Linked DNA regions of Homo sapiens: region 1 is linked to region 2. Evidence: fine-mapped expression QTL. A gene starts in region 2. The other region holds a variant in brackets. All regions are shown on one strand. Distances are from middle to middle.

Region 1 (9,617 bases), 26 kb before region 2:
CATGCCCATGGAACCTTAAAAGTTGCATAAGTTTTAAGTGCATCTTGTAGGAAATGCCCTTAAAAATTATCTTTACTTTCCATCTTCTTGCCTGAAATACATTCATAATAGATGGAGAATTTGCCACTGCCTGAGACCATGAGGATAAGGGCCACACTTAGGAATGGCTAAGCATGAGTTAGAAGGAGCCTGGATGTCAAACAGCATCCTTTCATTTAAAGCTATTAAGGGCAGGGTTCTTACCCTGGGGTAGAGGATTTGATTCCAGAGGTTCATGACATCATACACAAACTATTACATGTCTGTTTTTCTGGGGAGAGAATCCATGGCTTTCATCAGATTCTCAAAAGGGCTCATGACCCCAAGAGTTTAAGAAACATGGCTGGAGGACAGAGCTTTGAACAGCTGCAGACAGAGTTCTCTTTGGCTGTTTACATGTTGAAGTAATCACAGGCACTGTTAAGACCAATGTAAGATGTAGAAGAGACAAACATGGATAAGACACCATCAGGACTGGAATGATGAGAGAAGGGGCTTGTGGCCAGGCCAGGAGAGAAACTCTAACCCCTTCCTTCCCAGCACTCGTCTTGGTGAGATGAGATTCATGGTTTATACCAGAACCATCAACAACTTTTACTTGATCACTATTTGAAAATTGCTAGGATCCTGTATATAATTCACATTATTTGAAAGCTGCTAGCATACTGCCTATGAATCACTGCAGAATGGTAGTTTTTTCCAACTAGTCTTTTCAATGTCCTCGGCCAAAACCCAGAGTTCATGAGACCCTTTAGTAGCTTAAGGAGAGGTATCCAAGCTGCAGAGATCACATTGACATTTGAAGTGACCATTCAGGAATCTGGACAAGATAAAGTGAGAGTCCACTCCACAAGAATTTCCTCTTGGGATGAATCAGCCCCTACACCAGCTCTTATTTTTGTTTTGGTTTTAAAACAACTAGGAACCTTTATTATAAATATTCAGTGCTCTTCAGGTACAAGATGTACAAGTACCACAAATTAAAACAAACTTGGCTTATCAGAAGTGAAAGCCTTCTTCCTTTTAAACCACGTATTTTCAGATATTTAAGCTTGGCAAGACATTTGCAGATATGTAAGCTTTACTTGCACTGCCTATTTGTCATTTCCTTACACAAATCTCTGTTGCATCTTAAATAGAAATAATAGGCTGGATTCAGTGGCTCACACCTGTAATCCCAGCACTTTGGGAGGCCAAGGTGGGGGATCACTTGAGGTCAGGAATTTGCGACTAGCCTGGCCAACATGGTGAAACTCCATCTCTACTAAAAATACAAAAATTAGCTGGTGTGGTGGCACATGCCTGTAATCCCAGCTACTCGGGAGGCTGAAGCAGGAGAATCGCTTGAACCTGGCAGGCGGAGGTTGCAGTGAGCCGAGATTGCACCACTGCACTCCAGTGGACAGAGCGAGACTCTGTCTCCAAATAAGAAAAAAAAATAGAATGAAAATGTGTTTTCATCTTTTTTTAAAAAAAATTTGCTTTTTTTGCCTTTAATTTTTAGTGTACTTTTTTTTGTCTTAACCTTTTCTTTTCTTAAATGGCAGAGATAGACACAATTATTTAGCTCAAAGAGACAATACAGTCTCATGGTGAAGAATCCACACTCCCTAGATTCAAATTCAACTCAATATAGCCTGGGCAAGTTACTTAACTTTTTTCACCGTGCCACCATTTCCTCATCTATCGGTGGGGATAATAATAATACCAATGTCCAGCTCATAGATTTGTTGTGAGGATTCAATGAATTATGGCTGGTATATAGAAAACATTGATAAGTATAAAGCTACTACTATTATTCTATTAGATACAGTATCACCATTCTAAAATTAAGAGCATTTGTAATCTATGTTGGAAAGGACTAGAATTCAGGATGAATTCTTGAGTTCTTACCTTGAGGAAAGAAGCCTCAGCCAGACTCAGGAATGTACTCATTGGAAACTTGGGCTTTAGGCAGATCAGTCACCCCACAGTGGGACTGGTGATCATGGTGAACCACATTTATTTGAGCACCTCCCGGGTTATGCTGAGGTGACACTGATGGTCAGGAAAACATGATACATTGTACTTTACATCAGAATTTAAAACAAAATAAACTAGGTGAGGGTCAGTATCTTCTACCTTCCCCAAATTACCAAAACACTAAAGACTTTCTAATAATAAATAAATCTGAAATTATTATTGTCAGTCATATTGATAACATCTACTTAATTGACAGCTGATCTTTAATAAACTCGATAAGGTTTTAATACTGAGCAGTACCTCAAATAGTCTAAACGAGGGCTCTTTTAAACATTTTACATTTGAATTTTAAAATTCAGCCTCTCAAGTTACCTCCTTCATATTGTATTTTGTAATGTACTTGTAATATGCTTCCAGAAACTTTTAGGTAAATTAAAGAGAAACGCCAATTTCATTTTTGGTCCCTTCCTTCAGCCTTTGTTCATCTATTCATAAGTAATATTCTCCAAGCTCACGTGCTCTCCCTCTGCCCCCCAACTTATTAATTTTTTTTAAATATTGTCTGTGTGCATTCTCTCCAGAATTGCTGGCTGTTGATACTCTTTCTCATCAACTCCCCAAATGGAAATGCTTTCAACCACTGCAGAAGTAAAAAATTACCCAAAGGCTGTATGATGCAAACTCTTTCTTTGGCTTTATCTTACTGATAAGAATAAAAATAACACCTCACGTATGTATAGAATATTAAGGTTCACAAAACACTTTGTGTCTCCACCGCCTTCATTAACCTCACCACAATCCAGGGAAATAAGTAAGGCATATGACAATTCAGCTCAGAGAAGTTAAATAAGCAGTCATTTCAATCCTACGAAATTAGAAGATCATAAAAATATTTTCACCAAAACCCTAGACTTATGATTCATGCTTGGTTCCTTAGCTAATTATTTCTACTTGCATGGAAAAAAAATAGAGTAAATTCTGAATTCTGGAACCCCTGGGCTGTAGCACAGACTCTTCAATCAGGGAATTTTCTGATTTGTGAAAGGAAACTATGACATCTTACGTAAATCAAGTACTACTCTCGAGTTTTCCTTCATCTCACGGTTGGTCTTCCTTACAAGGAATAGATACTTAAAACATATGGTAAAGCACACACTATTAACCCAACACAATCCAAGTTAACTCTATCAAAACCAGTACCAAAAAGGCCTCTCATTCTGACCTTCTGAAAACTGTCTGTGGAGGAATTCCACTAGGTCCTTTTTCATTTCCTGTTTATAGAGTTCTGGACGGTGGATATTTGGCATTAAAAGGTTAGTATAAATAAATGACCATTGATATGCAAATATTTAATTGATCATGATTTTTTGAAGGCCTTGCAAATAGCAACACTATTTATCGAAATACTTTTTAGTGATGTTATATATTTATATCTCAGAATATTTACCTTAAAAAGGAGGGAGGAAAAAATTGACTGTAGAAATGGCAGAAAAATATATTCTGCTATAGAATATATGTAGGAAAATAGGCAAATAAGAAATGGGATAAGACAGTAAGTACAGTAGGCAAGGATCTATGACAAATCAATACCTATAAAGATGGACCCAAAATAGACTGAAGTTTGAATATAATTCAGTACTCAACTTGCAGGCCACAAGACTATATCATAGATGAAATATATTGTTATAAGATCTTCTTGTCTCTCTAATCAATCAAACATTCAATTAGTAGGAAGTTACTGAACACCTACTATGTGCTTAGCCATGCATATTCAATGATGCAAATCTCTGGATGTTGCTCAACACCTACAGATATTTATACTACATTGCAGTGAGTGGGGTTTTGTAGAGCTGATGGCTCAAACTCCCTACCTTTTACCTTACTTCTTTAAAACAATAGGCTCAGATTAAGATAAGGAAACTCCGCTCTCCAAAAAAGAGGGTGATTCCTCAAACTGTTGATAAGGACTGAGCCAAATTTTCTTTTCTTAGCAGTGGAGCTAAAAAGTCTATAAGGCCACATGGAGTTAGCCTTTTTCTCTTTCTCTTTCCACATGCCTGGAGTGAAAAGGTCCAGGACCAGTCTTCCATAGGATAAAGATAGACCTTGCTTTTTCTCCTCCCAAGGAGCAGTCAGGCCCATGCCCATTTTGTGCCTGGATATTTCTTAGGAAGCTCAAGAAATCACAGAGTTACTGGCCAAGGAAGGATTTAGGTATTAGTGAATCTCCCACATAGTATGTTGGTTTCTAACAATGCACAGTGAAAATACAACCTCACTCACCCTACGCTATTTCCAAAGTTCAGCTCATCCCTTTTGCAAACACCTCCCCCTGAGTGGGATCTTGGAGCAGTTTCAGGCAGGGTTGCAAAAAGACACATTGAGACTGTTATTCTTAGTTGAGGAATATGTCAAGAGGAATAAATTCTTCTTCAGCCAAGATCATGCTGACATGAAAACGATGTCCTAGGAAACAAGGCGAGAACAACCAAAAGAACAAATGTTTCTGGCTGAAATTCTTCTCCAACTCTTCCTGTAACTCTTCAGGAGCAAGAAATTCCAGAAAGCAAAGCCATTCCCTCCCAGGTGCTAAAGTGTGGATAGGGACCAATGCTAAATATTGACAATCATCTTCAAAAAGTTCTCCATCTCAGGAGTTGGAACCTTTTCCCTTTTCTATTTTGAAACAAACTTTGGACTATTTTTAGCCTCTACTAGCCATTAAGGAACAAAGTAGCTTTCAATGTTAAAACTTATCAGGTATCCTATTCTAAATAAATTATCCAAAGACTATGCATATTTAAAAATTTGCTTTTGACCCTATCGTCTATAAAGTGTTTACAATGACAAGCCTTGGCTGTTTGATACACAAAAACTTTGAGGCTCCTGAGGCTTATGTTAACATTACGTTAGCCAACAAAGCAGGTGGAGATAACAGCTGCATAAGAAAGTTGTGCTATAATTTGAGAAACACTTAAAATACCTGTGGCTATAATAAATATAATTACTATTAATAATCATGTGGCTCTTTACACTTGACCAGGAAAGTAATAACTATGTTAACAGAAAAACAAAACAGGAACAACAAGAATAATAACTCTTTTGGTGTGCATGCAACTGAAATGGCACACATGAGATGAAAAATCTGTGACAGAAAGAGAAGGTACTGTCCAGGGGATTCATAAGCCAAGGCTGAATCTCGGGTTTCCTCAGCTTATTCCTCTCTTGTGCACACACAATCCTTCTACCGGGTTCTGCCCCTTCCAAGCAATAGCAAATTCTTCCACACTGTTGTTTGCTGCAATCACATTGAACCATTCTTT[C/T]ATTGGAATAAATTTTGTTACCTATTTTTGAGGCTTTGCCTTATATCTGCCTTGCTTTACCTAACTTTTAAATCATACCCATTCATTACAGCATTGTAATGTCTACCTCTTTAAGAAAACTTTTCTGCTGTCCTCTGTCCCCTAATAAAACTCTTCCGTTCTTTGGACCTGGAGACATGCTTGTATCTGTCCTGTTGCACATATCACATTTGTCCTGGAATTTAGATGTTTGTTTCCTGTTCCCTATTGCCTTTTTTTTTTTTTTTTTTTGTGATGGAGGGAGTCTCACTCTGTCAACCAGGCTGGAATGCAGTGGTGCGATCTCACTGCAACCTCTGCCTCCCGGGTTCAAGCAATTCTCCTGCCTCAGCCTCCCGAGTAGCTAGGATTACAGGTGCCTGCCACCACGCCCGGCTAATTTGTTGTTGTTGTTGTATTTTTAGTAGAGATGGGGTTTCACTGTGTTGGCCAGGCTGGTCTCAAACTCCTACCTCAAGTGATCTACCCACCATGGCCTCCCAAAGTCCTGGGATTACAGGCATGAGCCACTGTACCTGGCCCCCTATTGGCTTTTAGTCTTTTGAAGAAAAGGTCCCTGCCTCCACTGTCATTGAATCCTATCCAGCCCAGTGCTCCCTACCCCCACAGAGGAGGTGCTCAATAAATGCTGTTGCACTTGATCCCCAACTCCAGGCTGTGCCTCAAATACAGGCTACTCTAGATGCAGAGTGATTATCGTGCCTTTTAAGAAGTAGCATCTGTGCCCAGAATACTCATAAAATAGCCCTTTGCCTATTTCACAAGCTAACCAAAATAAATATTTTTATAGTCTCTCATACTTTTGAGATGTCAAAACCATCAAGCTTAACTCTTCTCTGGATTCTCTTTATAAGTCCTATACCAGCTCACGATGGTAGCATGCTTTAAAGTTTGTAATTTGTATCAGCTCAGACGAGTTCATTTGAGCCACACAGGACTCTTTATGGGATACACAGATTAGGGATTCTCTTCATTTTAAAGATGTTGAAAATAAAATGTAGACAAGTCCTTGTATAAGATCACATGGCTCAGCACATTCAGACCTGCATGGGGCTGCCCAAGGTGGCACACTGAGGTCTGCTTCTCTGATCTAGTGACTCAATGAGGAGTTTTTGTCATGGCAACACCACACTGGTGGGCCATACTGGCAGGCAGGCCTATTGCACCTAGAAAGAGTGTCTAAGAGATGTTTTCCTCATAAACAATGTGATTTTCTTAAATTATCCAAATGAGCTGCATCTCCCACTTACATCACCGAACTGAAAGATCCTATCCTTAGATAATAAACACATGTAAGATCATACCAGCCAATGACTGGCCCCTAGGATCACCTGAGCTCCTTTTCAGATGAAAGAGCTTGGAATCAATTACTTTTTGCTCACTGTACACTTTTTGTCCTGTACTTGATAACTTTGCTGAAGGTAGGGATATGGGCAACCTTTTTCCTAAAATGTGTAAGGTAAATGAGTTCCACTGCAGAGCCATTTGATGGGATTGTTGGTAGCTGCCCGGAAATCTACTGGAAGCTGTATCTGAGCAAGCAGAAAAGAGTATCCTGACAATATCTATGCCACAGATGAGGGACAGGGAGTGTCCCTCCATGGGATGTGGAGATGCTGTGCTGCAGATCCCTCTTCAGGACTGAAGGGCTTATTACTCCAGATGGTGGGACAGCCACTGGAAAGCAGCCTCCCCTGGTCAGCCCTCTCTGGGGAATGCCTTCAGTGAAAATAGCTGGCACATCCAAGATCACATGCCTTTTTCTGGATACTAGACACAGGGTTTAACCCTCTTTCCCCGACTTGGAAAAACACAAAAGTGTCATCCCGGAGCTAGAACATCCATGAAGTAGGCTGAGGCCTTCACTGAGGTTGCATTGCCACACAATTTCTACCTCTGTCCAGTCCTGATTCTTCCCTTTCTCTTCCTCAGGTGTTGATCCCAGGAGCACCCTCTCATAAACTTCCTACTTGCTAATCTCCTTGGGGTTTGCTTCTAGGGAACCCACCTGCAACAAGGAGGAGTGACAGAGGTCCCAGATATTGATGAACTTAATTCATTAATTTATTAATTGAGTTGTTTATGTGTTACTTTATCGGCAAATCCCATTGGCTTTATTCTTCAAATATATCCTTAATAAGACCACTTCCCACTTATCTCTACTGTGACCCATCAGCACCATTGCTAGTACATACTTTTAGCACCAGCATGCAATTTAGCAAAAGACAGATGAATTGTAGAAAAACCCCCACTCTGGGATGCCAATTAGAAAAAGATAGCTTTTCCTTTTGGCTGGCACAACCCCTGGCTTGATGAGAAAAGCCAGATGCCTTTGGGTAGCGAACAACCTGTACCATCATACACCATGGCCCTGCAGTAACCCTTCCTAAGCCACTATGATCTCTTGTCTGAACTGTAACCTCTAGCTGCCCCCCTACCTCCCCTTCGCCCTTGCACAGTATACTACCTACACCAGCCTGCGAGATTCTTCTAAAAGGAAAAGAGACGTGACCTTCCTCTTCTCAAAGTCACCCAGTTCCCACTTATTCAGGTAAATCCTGTTAGTTCCTAAGTGCTCTGGCCTGGCTACCTCTTGCTTCATTTTCTACTACTCTGTCTTGCTCCTATTCACTCTGTTCCAGGCACACTGGCTTCTTGACAGTTCTTCATATTCACCAAGCACCCCCTTTCCTCAGGGATTTTGCCCTTGCTTTCCCCTCTGCCTGGAGCACTTGGAACCTGGAGAGTCGCATGTCTGGCTGCCCCATTCCCTTGGGTCTCTGCTGAGCTGTGACAGAGGTCTTTCTGAACTGCCCCAATCTTCCTTCATACCTATCCTCTTACCCTAATTTTTCATAGGACACGATACCATATATGATTATTTATGTGTTTGTGAATGTCATGTTTCCCCTTACCAGAATATAAGTTTCAGGAGAGTCGGAACTTTGTTTCATTCACTACTATATCCCAGGCCCTACATTATGATTTGAAATACTGTGGGTATCAATAGATTCTCTTGAAAGGAAAAATGACTAAATAAACAAACTTGCTCAAGAACAACATTTGGCATCCACTAAAACTTCTGCAAACATGCAAGGAATAGGAGGGTGGAAAAAACAATGGGAAAATGTTCATTAGGGCTATGCAATGTAAGAATCATGAGCTTTGGTAATTGTTACAAAAATAACAAGTGAAATTGTGAAATAATTTTGGTAGAAACACAGTGTACTCCACTCAATGTCTCAACCCAATGACCAGGCCAGGGATTGGAGTGAAGTACACGTTTTCTATCAAAATGCAACATCATAATTTTACATGGTTTTTCTGCCTTATTCTAACTTTCAGGGGCCTCCATGTATTAAAAAAAAAAAAAAAAAGGACGTGGGGTTTTGACTCCTGCTTGGATGAGACACAGTTTATTCTCTTAGATGAAAATTACATCATTTTTCCAATTAGGATTTTTCAAAGCCACCAGAATAGAAATGTGCTTTAGGCATCTCCTAAAGCAAAGCCATTTAAAATAGACTAAAATACTATTTTAAACTACCCAAATATTTACATATGGATAGATTAGTAGTCATCAAAACTCTTGATTTTCTGGACAGAAAGAGGGATTCTTAAGCTGGAATATATTTTATTTTAATCCGTGACATTTTGTGCAACATAAATAGCAAATCTTATCAATATGGAGAAGTTGAATGTACTAGAATGTTCACCACAAAACACCTTTTCAAAGGCAAAAATGAGTTTTCAATAATAAGGTTCTATTTTACACTTGCCTTCAAGATTTAGAAAACCGATACACATGGTTTTTGGATAAGTAGCTCGTAATCCCTGTTAGTCGTTTCTCTAGTATGTTTCCTGTGTGATTTTGACAGAGGGAGGTTTTACTGATTGATTCTTTCATTATATTTCATATAGACAGATGGAGCTAAGATTAAGTATTTTCCCTAAATATTAATTCACATGAAGCTCTTGAATGTTGATTCCACTCAAGTTACAATGGCTTGGCATATTCTTGATTTTATTTTGCTTTGTTTTGTTTTGTAGCACGAGGTTATATAGACAAACTACTAACCCAGGTTTCTTACTGACTGGCTGCTGGCTGCTCTCTGGACTGATTGTGTTACCTTACACAAGTCATTTGACTCTCTGGGACCTCAGTTTCCTCATTAGACAACTAGAGGGTTCTGCTCAGAGGCCTTTGGAGTACCTTCCAGCATACACATTCTGTAGTTCCTCATTTACATGTGT
Region 2 (9,617 bases):
GAAGTTTGCAGTGACCCGAGGTCACGCCATTGGACTCCAGCCTGGGCAACAGAGTGAGACTCCTTCTGAAAGAGACAAAACAAAAAACAAAAACAGATCCCTTCTTTGCCGGATTCAATTCAAACTTAAGATTTAGAAGTGAGTTCAAATTTGAGTCTGACATAGTATCACTTCCCTTGACAAGTTAGGGAAAATTAAAATATTCTACAAAAAGAATAGAGGGAGATCAAGAAAGCAGGACAACCATGGGCAAAATGAGAAAGTAGACAAAACTGGGTTTCAGTGCCCGATGCCCTGTATGGTGCACCTGGCATTCCCTGGGGGAAACTGCCATTGGGATAAATAACCCAAGCCAACACAATGCCTGGTCAAAACTTACCTATTCTGTGTCCAGTGGAGATAAAGCATATTTTAAAGTGGCCATGAAATAGAGACACTCGAACTGTAATCAGGGACATCTAGGGACTTAATACTGTAAATCAAAGGCATGAACCTCAGAAACTATTTCAGGCAGCAAAGGGGATATTTAGAGACAAGGAGACTTTTCCAACTACCTCCAGATTTGATTCTCCTGTGATGAAACCCCAGTTCGCAGATTTGTGTCCCAACTTACCTTCCTTCTCTGGCCTTTTGCATTGTTCTCTCCACAATAAATTAACCTACGGACCATGGACATATAAGAAGTGCATCTGGCACATATGTTTATTGCAGCACTATTTACAATAGCAAAGACATGGAACCAACCCAAATGCCCATCAGTGATAGACTGGATAAAGAAAATGTAGCACATATACAGCATGGAATACTATGCAGCAATACCAAAGAGTGAGTTTATGTCCTTTGCAGGGACATGGATGAAGCTGGAAGCCATCATTCTCAGCAAACTAACACAGGAACAGAAAACCAAACACCTCATGTTCTCACTCATAAGTGGGAGTTGAACAATGAGAACACACGGACACAAGGAGGGGAACTTCACACACCGGGGCCTGTTGGGGGTGGGGCGCAAGGGGAGGGAGAGTATTAGGACAAATACCTAAAGCATGCGGGGCTTAAAACCTAGATGACGGGATGATAGGTGCAGCAAACCACCATTCACATTTATACCTGTGTAACAAACCTGCACATTCTGCACATGTATCCCAGAACTTAAAGAAAAAAAAAAAAAGAAGTGCATGTGGGCAAAAGTCTCTGAAACCCACTACTTTCCATGGTGGATCCAGTACATGAAGGTGAATGGAACCATGGAACCAGTTTCAAAGGGTTTCTGCAGGAAGAAGTGCATTTGCAGAGAAGCTTGTGAACAGCTTGCCAAATTTCAGCCTGGAAGAATTTTATTATCTTTAATTTACCAACCTAGAAATGGGCTTATAAGGGAAATTCTTAGCGATGTCTTCTTAGGCAACCACAGCAACTGCCACACACCTACCTCACTGCCCTGGAGCCTGCAGTACACTGTTACGTCCAAGTTCTGGCCTTTGACAAACTGAAGCTGGAACAACTGGAGCCTAACCTGCCTGCTCCACCCTGGAGTGCTCAGAGGAGAATGAATTAACTTCCGCCAGCCAACCCAGTAGTCCCAGTCCTGAGCCAGAAAGCAGTGGTTGTTAGAAAGAATGCAGAAAGCAAAGCCACAGTGCCTTCGTTATACTATTAAACTGTAATCACCTTTTTCTATAAGCATCTTCCTGTTTTCCCTGAAGGGGGATGGTTTAACTGCTGTCCTGGGGCAGAGGTGCCAACTCAGCAGAGAGACTTCCTGTGGGTCTGGGAGGCAGTTGTGTTCAGCAGGCTGTGGCATGCCCACTGACCAGAGGCAGGCTGTGAGGGGGCCCCCATCCTGACAGAGGGCCGGAGGCAGGAACTCAGAGACTAACTAAGGCTCCTGGCTTAAGGAATGATGTTGATTTCCTTTTCTCAGGGCCAGCACTAGGATGAGGCAAGCCAAGTGCTTAGGGAACAAGACTTAAGTAGCTGTTCACTCTCGGGTCCTGCAAGTAGCTCCTTCACCCTAGTGCCAGACCTACTCAGAGCCAACAACAGCACAGGTTGTGTGTGTGTGTACACAGACTGTGGAAGTCGGCAGTTCTCAAAGTGTAGTCCCGAGACCAGCATCATCAGCATCACCTGGGAACTTGTTAGAAATTCTCAGGCCCCCTGAATCAGACACTCAGGAAGTGGGGCCCAGCAATCTGTGTCTTACAAGCCCACCAGGTGATTCTGATGCAGCTGAGGTTTGAGAAGCCCCGTGCTGGAGGAGTGTGCTCTCCAAAGCCAGTCTCGTGGCATTTCTAAGGCCATCTCCCGCAATGCTTCCATACAGCCAGTATAGGGAAAGGGTGAGTGGCAAGATTACAGAGACTTTCCTAAAGCCATCAGCAAGATAGGAATCCCTCGAATAATAAATCAAGAATTGCTTTTTCCCAGCCACCCCTAAGTAGACTGTAGTAGTCAAGACTTGGCAATTGTTGGATAAAGATGGAGATTACTACTGAACCAGTTCCTTCCTGTTTCTTCCTAACTAGACACTCAGAGTTAGCCACTCAGTGACACTGTGATATGGACTAGCCATTTGAATATTCTATGGCTGAGATTCCTTCCTCTGTAAAACGGGTCCAACATCACCTACCTGTGAGGGTCAGAGAAGCTAATGTATGCAGAACCCTGAGTAGAAGCCTGGGGCAGAGTGAGCTGTGGTGACAGTTCATACATCTAACCAGGGGTTCCGGGCTCCATCCTCCCCCAGGGAGCGAGGTGGGAGGATCTGCGGCCTGAGGACAATTGAGTGGGGAAGGAGGTGAGCTGGTTTCATCTAGGGTACCATGTTTTTTAAAGAAGGCTATTTTCCAATCCAAATAGTCTGTGGGCATCAGGCTTCACTGGTGGTGACAAAAGAGAGAGAAAGGAAAGAAGGGACACCCAGTGCCGCCTGCCATTGGGTACTGAGAACCACACTTTAAAACAAAAAACAAAAAAAACTATATAAAGGCAAGATGACACTTCAGAAGACCCCACATTTAAACTTTGTCCTTGGGACCCAAACAGTATAGAGTAGTAAGACAATGACCACCAGTGAGACAGGGACCCCAGGCATTTGGCAGTGTACATGGTTTCTTTTGTCCAGGGCAGGATTACAAACAGGAGTGTGAGGATGAAATCATGCAGCAAAAAACACTGTCAGGGTCAAGGCAGACGTGATGTCTTAGCACTGACGTCCCATCACAGAATTGTGGAACCATTTCTGCAAAGCTGAAGGAGAACTAGTCCCATGCAACTTTTCCCAACTCACAGACATGTCTCCTGAGGACCAGAAAGGTTGCTGGCCTGCAGAGGCACACAGCTGGTGTGCCTGCAGAGGCCCACAGCGGAGAACAATCATTAGCTGTGCTCCGTTTCTCCCTTCCATTAAGGAGTGCTGGGGTGAGACGCAAATTTTAAGCTTCTACCCATAGGCCAGGTAAACAAAGGGCGGCCTCCCGCCCGCCCCGTTCCTGCCTCGGCCATCCCTTGCAGCACAGCTGAGGGCTTGAAGGAGGATCCATGACTCACACTTTTCTTGCCGCGGAGAATTAACTCCAAGATAACATTACCCATGTGGGAAAAAAAAGCAAGCCATCAAGGAAGAAAGTTCACTTCGCGCCCCTCTCCACCGAGCCTCCTTACCTTCCTCATTTAAAATCCACGGCAGAGAGGCCAACACGGAGTCAAAGCCGCAAGTGCTCTCTTCAAAGGCACAGGACCCAGCGGGCAGGTCGAGGGCACCGGCGAGCTGCAGGGCTGCGGGCACAAAGCGAGTTTCAGTTCGAGCTCCACCCAGGAGCCTTTGCACCAACTCGGGGAGCCCCAGGGGGACTACCTGGTGAAAGTGGGGGAAAGACGAGCGGGAGGGGGCGGGAGAGGGATGCAGTACCTGTCCCCCAGCATCCCCGGGCGCCTCCACTGAGCGACCCCACGCCCACCCCCACCCCCACCCCAGGCTTGGCCAGGGGAGGGAGTTAGCGGCTGCGGAGGATCAGGAGGCGCCCTCGGATGGCCCAGCCCAGCACGGTGAGCCGGACCCCCGGGGGCAGCAGGAGCGGGGGCGAGTCGTCAGAGCGCCCCCGGGGTTGTCCCGGGGTCCAGGCCTTACCTTGCAACGCCAGGAGGACGCCCCTTAACAGCATGGTCGCGTTTCAGGGAGGATGACTAGGAAGGGGTGCAAGTTGCCAGCCCGCTGGGACTGGCTGCTCCTAGTGAAAGGGATCGTGGGAGGCGGGGGCGCCGGGGACCCAAGGAGGGAGAAGTCGAGAGGCAAAGCTTGCGCTCTGAGCTGCCCAACTTTGCAGAGCGGCTCCCGGAGCCGAGCGGTATGCTGGAAGGTGCTCGAATGGAGAGCGCCAGCGCCCCGGCGCTGAGCAGCAGCCTCAGGTCAGACCGCGGCCCAGCTGGTCCTGGGCGACGATGGGGCTGGACAGGGAGGAGACAACTGCACACTTTGAAAGGCCAGCCACGACTGGCTGGGAGAGGAGAGGTCGGCCCGCAGTGCCTTCGCTCAGGATTTTAAAGCTTGGGACCAGAGCCCTTGCAGACACTTGGAAGGGGCAGGCCTTCCAGGAGTCCCTCCGCTGGGTTGGGACCCGAGGCTCCCGCCCCGCCCAGCCGCGGTGGGAACTCGCTTATTTCTGGGGACAGCTTCCCTGCATCTGGCATGTCAGTCCCGCAGGGCTGGCCCTAATTTTAACTTCTTCTCCCCAGAATGAAAGAGGGTGGAATTCTCCAAGGACAGCCTGGAGGAAAATTTGGAAACGGTTGGGTGGAATAAGCTTTATATCTAAGGAGTTTCAGCGTTTACGGTCCAGCAATGCTAACCCTGGAATACCACCCCCACTTTTTTTAGCCGGTGGAATGTCTGGCATGCCTGGTGCTCAGCATTCCCTCCGTCCGGTGAAATGGGGGCATTCCTTCTCTCCAAAGAGCCATGATAGATTGATTAATGGGAGGCTTTACACTGGGAGGGGGTTGTTGGGGAGGGAGTTACTTCTGAGGAAGCTGTTTGCTTTGGGCACTAAGTGGGTCTCCAACAATATTCTTTTCTTGTAAAGAGTTCTTCTTCCTCCCCTCCTCTTCCTCCTCCTCCTCCTCCTTTCTCCCATTTATAATTTTGTGCAGGCAATTTTGTGAGGAGGGCAGTGGTTTTAAAACCTGAGGGTGCATCAGAATCTGCTGAAGGGCCTCACCCTCCGTTTCCGATCCAGTAGCTCTGGAGTGGGCCTGAGAGGCTGCACGTCCCTAATAAGTTTCCAGAGGCTGCTGCTGCCGCAGCGGGTTTGGAACAATACTTTGAGGACCACTGGCCTAACAAACTCCAGTTGAGCCATCAGTTCAACCTGCTCCCATGCCTTCACCTGGCTTCCAGACCGCTGGGTTTCCTGGTCTTTCATTGGCCGCCGCTTCTCGGCCTCTTTGCGTTACCTCTGTAACCCCTTAACATGAGAGTGCCTCCAAGTTCTTCCCTGTCACTCCTGTTTCTTTCTCTATCCAGCCCCTCAATGCTGTCCTCAAGTCTCATAGTTTTAGATACCAATGATAGCCTGATAACTCCCACATTTATATTTCTAACCCAGACTACTCACTAACGCCAGACTCTTCGATCTCATTGCCACCTCAACATTTCCAATCGGATGCTTCAGAGCTATTTCATACTTAACAGGTCCCAACATGAAGGCTGCATATTTCTTGCCAAACCTGCCCGTCCCCTGTGTCTTCCTCATCTCAGTAAAAGAACTATTTTCCTCCAGTTGTTCAGGAGAGAAAACTTGGAGGCATCTTCAGCTCATCCGTTCCTGTCAGACATTGCCAATTTCTATCAGCTCAGGATTCAAAACACAGCAGATGCTGACCATGCTCTGTGCCCATGGTGGTGATGCCTTGGTTGGTCCAAGCTGCCCTTGCCATCAACCTGGGATACCGCAGTGGCCTCCTGACCACGGTCTCCCTTCATTTTCTGCCCTGCCCACCCTACTCTATTCTGAACACACTAGTCAGGGTTATCCTTTTAATACAGAAATTGGGCCATGTCACTCCTTAGCTCAAGACCCAACAAGTTCCCAAGTCATTTAGTAAAGTCCAAAGTCTTCACGATGACCAACCAGGCCCTATAGGACCTGCTCCACCCTTTTCTTTCTTTTCTTGCTTTCCTTCTTTTTCTTTTTTTGAGACAGAATCCCACCCTGTCACCAGGCTGGAGTGCGATCTCTGTTCACTGCAAAGTCCACCTCCCAGGTTCAAGCAATTCTCCTGCCTCAGCCTCCCAAGTAGCTGGGATTACAGGCGTGTGACACCACGCCCAGCTAATTTTTGTATTTTTAGTAGAGACAGGGTTTCACCATGTTGGCCAGGATGGTTTCAATCTCTTGACATCATGATCCACCTGCCTCGGACTCCCGAAGTGCTGCGATTACAGGCGTGAGCCACTGCACCCAGCCCCACCCTCTTATTTCTCTGACTTCAATCACCCTGCTTACTCTTCTCTAGCCACACAGACCTCTTGGCTGATCCTCAAACACAGTCCAGCTATCCTTTCAGAATTTTGCACTGGCTGTTCTTTCTGCTCAAAATGCTCTTCCACAAAGAGCCACACAACTCACCGCCTAATGAGGTCTTCACTCAGATGTCACTTTCAGTATTAGAAAATTAGTAACCTTCTCCCTAATAAGGAAAATATATCTGGAATCCTTTTTTAAAGGTAGGAACAAATTTTCATGTGTTTTCTGTAAACAATGATTCAAATGGTCAAAAATTTATTCATTAGTGTGTGCTATTTGGTGTATATGTATCTTTTTTTATTTATATGCTTTGCCTCAGGTAGTAGCTAATAATAACATTTATTGTGTTTACCATTATAAATGTTTTATGTAGATAATCTCATTTAAGCTTCACAAAATCTCTACAGGATAAATATGTTCATTATCCCCATTTAATAGATGGGGAAACTGAGGCACAGAGTTCAGTGACTGTGGACAGTAGAGACAAAACTCAAACCCAGATCTGCTTTATTCCAAAAGCCTATTTTCTCAACCAGTACAGGACTTCTCTCACTTGGGTCTTATATTCTTTTTTTTTTTGACTTCTTGATCACAGATGGTGCTAAATATCTGATGAATTTCATCACACTACTTAACTAAAAATTCAAAGACAGTTATACATTCAGTCGAAACCTCAAAACATTATTTTCAACTAAAGAAGTTTTCAGCAACAATCAAACTGGTGCTCCTTTTTCCAGATACTTAAGGAGTATTTCAAAGTTTTAGAATTGCCTTAGATTCATGTCGTATGTTCTAAGTCATAGGAAAATGAAAAACTTCAAAGCCCTAAAGAGATCCTTCCAAAATTTAAAATATGATTTACAACCTTAACGTGACATTGTGTATTGCCACCTATGGGAACAGAATCATACATAAGTACAAACTCAGACCAAATTTTCTATTTTGCATATAATTGTTTGATCCCAAGAATATATGATCCTTAGACATTGGCACAAGTTAGAATGTCTGGGAAGCAGACTCTGATTTGAAGTTTAATGTGCAGGGTGTTTAATCAGGAGTACCTTGGGATCAGTGCCATGGAAGGGAGGGAGAGGAAGCAGGAAAGGGTGGAGGGAGAATTGGAGTTGCAATGCAAATCCCACAAAGCTTCTTTCAATCCCCCAAGGAACTATGGAGTTAAAATGGCCTATCTAACTTGTCTCATGTTAGGCTGAAATGAAAGGGCATTTGTACTGCTGTCTCCATCTGTCACTGGTTGTGGCCTATGCTGGGACAGAAGTGATCTCCAGTGAGGCAGCTCTCTGCACTGGGGAGGATCAGAAGTTGAAGGCCGATGACAATACTCCAAGCCGCTGGGACTAAAAGTCATTTCTTGAAGGGGGATCTGGACAGCATAAAAATGCCTACCACAGACGTTTTGCAGAGAAAGGAAAAAATATTGTATGTGGCCTAAGTCAGGATGCAGGGAAAAAGACTGAGGAGGGAAGCCAGAGAATCTAGAAACTACGTCAACCAACTTCCTTTGGTCACTAATCATAGCACCCACATGGTACCCTCTTATTACTTGGGAAAACAGGATCAGGTCCCAAGGAACCCAGAATGCTATTCTCCAAGATTTAGCTTAAGCAACTGATCAAATAACACATATCAAGTTCTGGCTTACAGAAAGCACTCAGTACTTAGGTATTGTAATAGGTTGAATGGTGGCTCAAAAGATACATCCGTATCCCAGAATCTGCAAATGTGACCTCATTTGGAAAAAGGGACTTTGCTAATTTAATTAAGTTAGGGATCTTGGGATGAGATCATCCTGTATTACCAGGTGGGCCCTAAATCAATGGCAAGTATCCTTATAAGAGTCAGAAGAAAAGGCACAGACACATGTAGGAAATGGTCACGTAAAGATGGAGATGGCATGTAAAGAGATTGGAGTGATGCAGCCCCAAGCCAAGGAATAACAAATTCTCCCCTAGAGCCCCAGAAGACTGTATTCTGCAGACACCTTGATTTGGGGCTTCTGGCCTCTGAAACTGTGAGTGAATAGCTTTCTGTTCTTTTAAGCCACCCGGTTTGTAGTAATTTGTTCTGGCAACCATAGAAAACTAATATAGAGTGCATTAAGTAAACACATGCCAGGCACTTAACATGCATTATCTCATTTAATCCATGCAATATCCCTATGAGGTGAATATCATTATTGTCCCCATTTTATAGACTAGGAGACAGGACCAGAGGGGGTCAATTAACCTGCTCAAAGTCACACGTCCAGCCAGCATGCAGCAAGGATTTGATCCCAGATGCCCACTTCTCCTGGCTATCCACTATGCTGCCCCTAAATGCTTCCTCCTTACACAGGCCTGTCTCTCCTAATGAGGGCTGCCTACACCACACACAGACACTATGCCCTGCTCTCTCTGTGGGTTCCTGTATGATGCTCACCTCTCACAGAGCCTGCCCATCCTCTCTGCTCTTTGCCAATCTGTTCCTTGCGCCCTCCAGGTACCTTTCACCAGGGGCTCTGCTCCTTGTTGTACCACTTCTAGCCTGGAGATCACCAAGTTCTTGCTTCTAATTTTCTGGGTCAAGGTGAGGAAGATGAAGCATTGCTGCTCCTCTCTATCCAGTGTCTTCCCACATAGCCAGGTGAGGCATTGGGGGGTGTGAGCAAATCTGTGGGAAGAAAGCAAGAAAGCCAGCATTTATGATTGCACCTTTGACTGCACTACAGAGGTTAGCCAATCTCAGAGTCTGTCTTTACTGCCCACTTTCCCTTCTGTTTTCTTTCTCTCCTTGTTAGTCTCACGCAGTGTCATGCCATGATAAGCTCAGCAAACATTTCCTGAGCACCTACTGTGAGCCAGACACTATGCTAGGGGCTGGAAATCCAGGGGTCAAGAAGACACATCCTCTGCTGCTGAGACAGGAGACTGACCCATGAGACAATAATTTCAATAAAATATGTGGATGAGATAGAATTAAGGCTGCAAATATAAAAAGTCTAGAGGCCAAGGAAGTCACGTAAATGAATGGAGTGATCTGGTAACACGGAAGAAATAGGGAGGGATGGAGACTGTGGTTAACTGGAGTAAGTAA

Direction of the effects. Positions count from the first base shown, and alleles are read on the strand shown. Sizes are in standard deviations (SD) of each study's normalised expression.
For the expression in prefrontal cortex of the gene that starts at base 4,513 in region 2, allele C in region 1 goes with a higher level than allele T (small effect, 0.36 SD a copy in BrainSeq).

What was found. PIP is the estimated chance that this variant, and not a neighbour inherited with it, causes the effect. A credible set is the group of variants that fine-mapping cannot tell apart.
Region 1: its variant is the best candidate, but not a certain one, in a credible set for the expression of MAMDC2 in prefrontal cortex (BrainSeq, PIP 0.61).

Annotation. Positions count from the first base shown.
Region 1 is chr9:70,064,703-70,074,319 of GRCh38, reverse strand. The region is part of intron 2 of MAMDC2 (MAM domain containing 2); the gene reads right to left. Among named protein-coding and RNA genes, the nearest start is that of MAMDC2, 26 kb to the right of the region's middle. The variant C/T (reference allele first, on the strand shown) is at 5,325.
Region 2 is chr9:70,038,744-70,048,360 of GRCh38, reverse strand. MAMDC2 (MAM domain containing 2) reads right to left here and starts at 4,513. Exons shown (of 14, transcript NM_153267.5): 1 at 4,130-4,513; 2 at 3,664-3,777. The coding sequence starts at 4,163. It overlaps LOC124902179 (a long non-coding RNA gene), which reads left to right and starts at 4,320. Exons shown (of 2, transcript XR_007061571.1): 1 at 4,320-4,407. RefSeq lists a silencer at 4,234-4,528 and an enhancer at 9,534-9,617.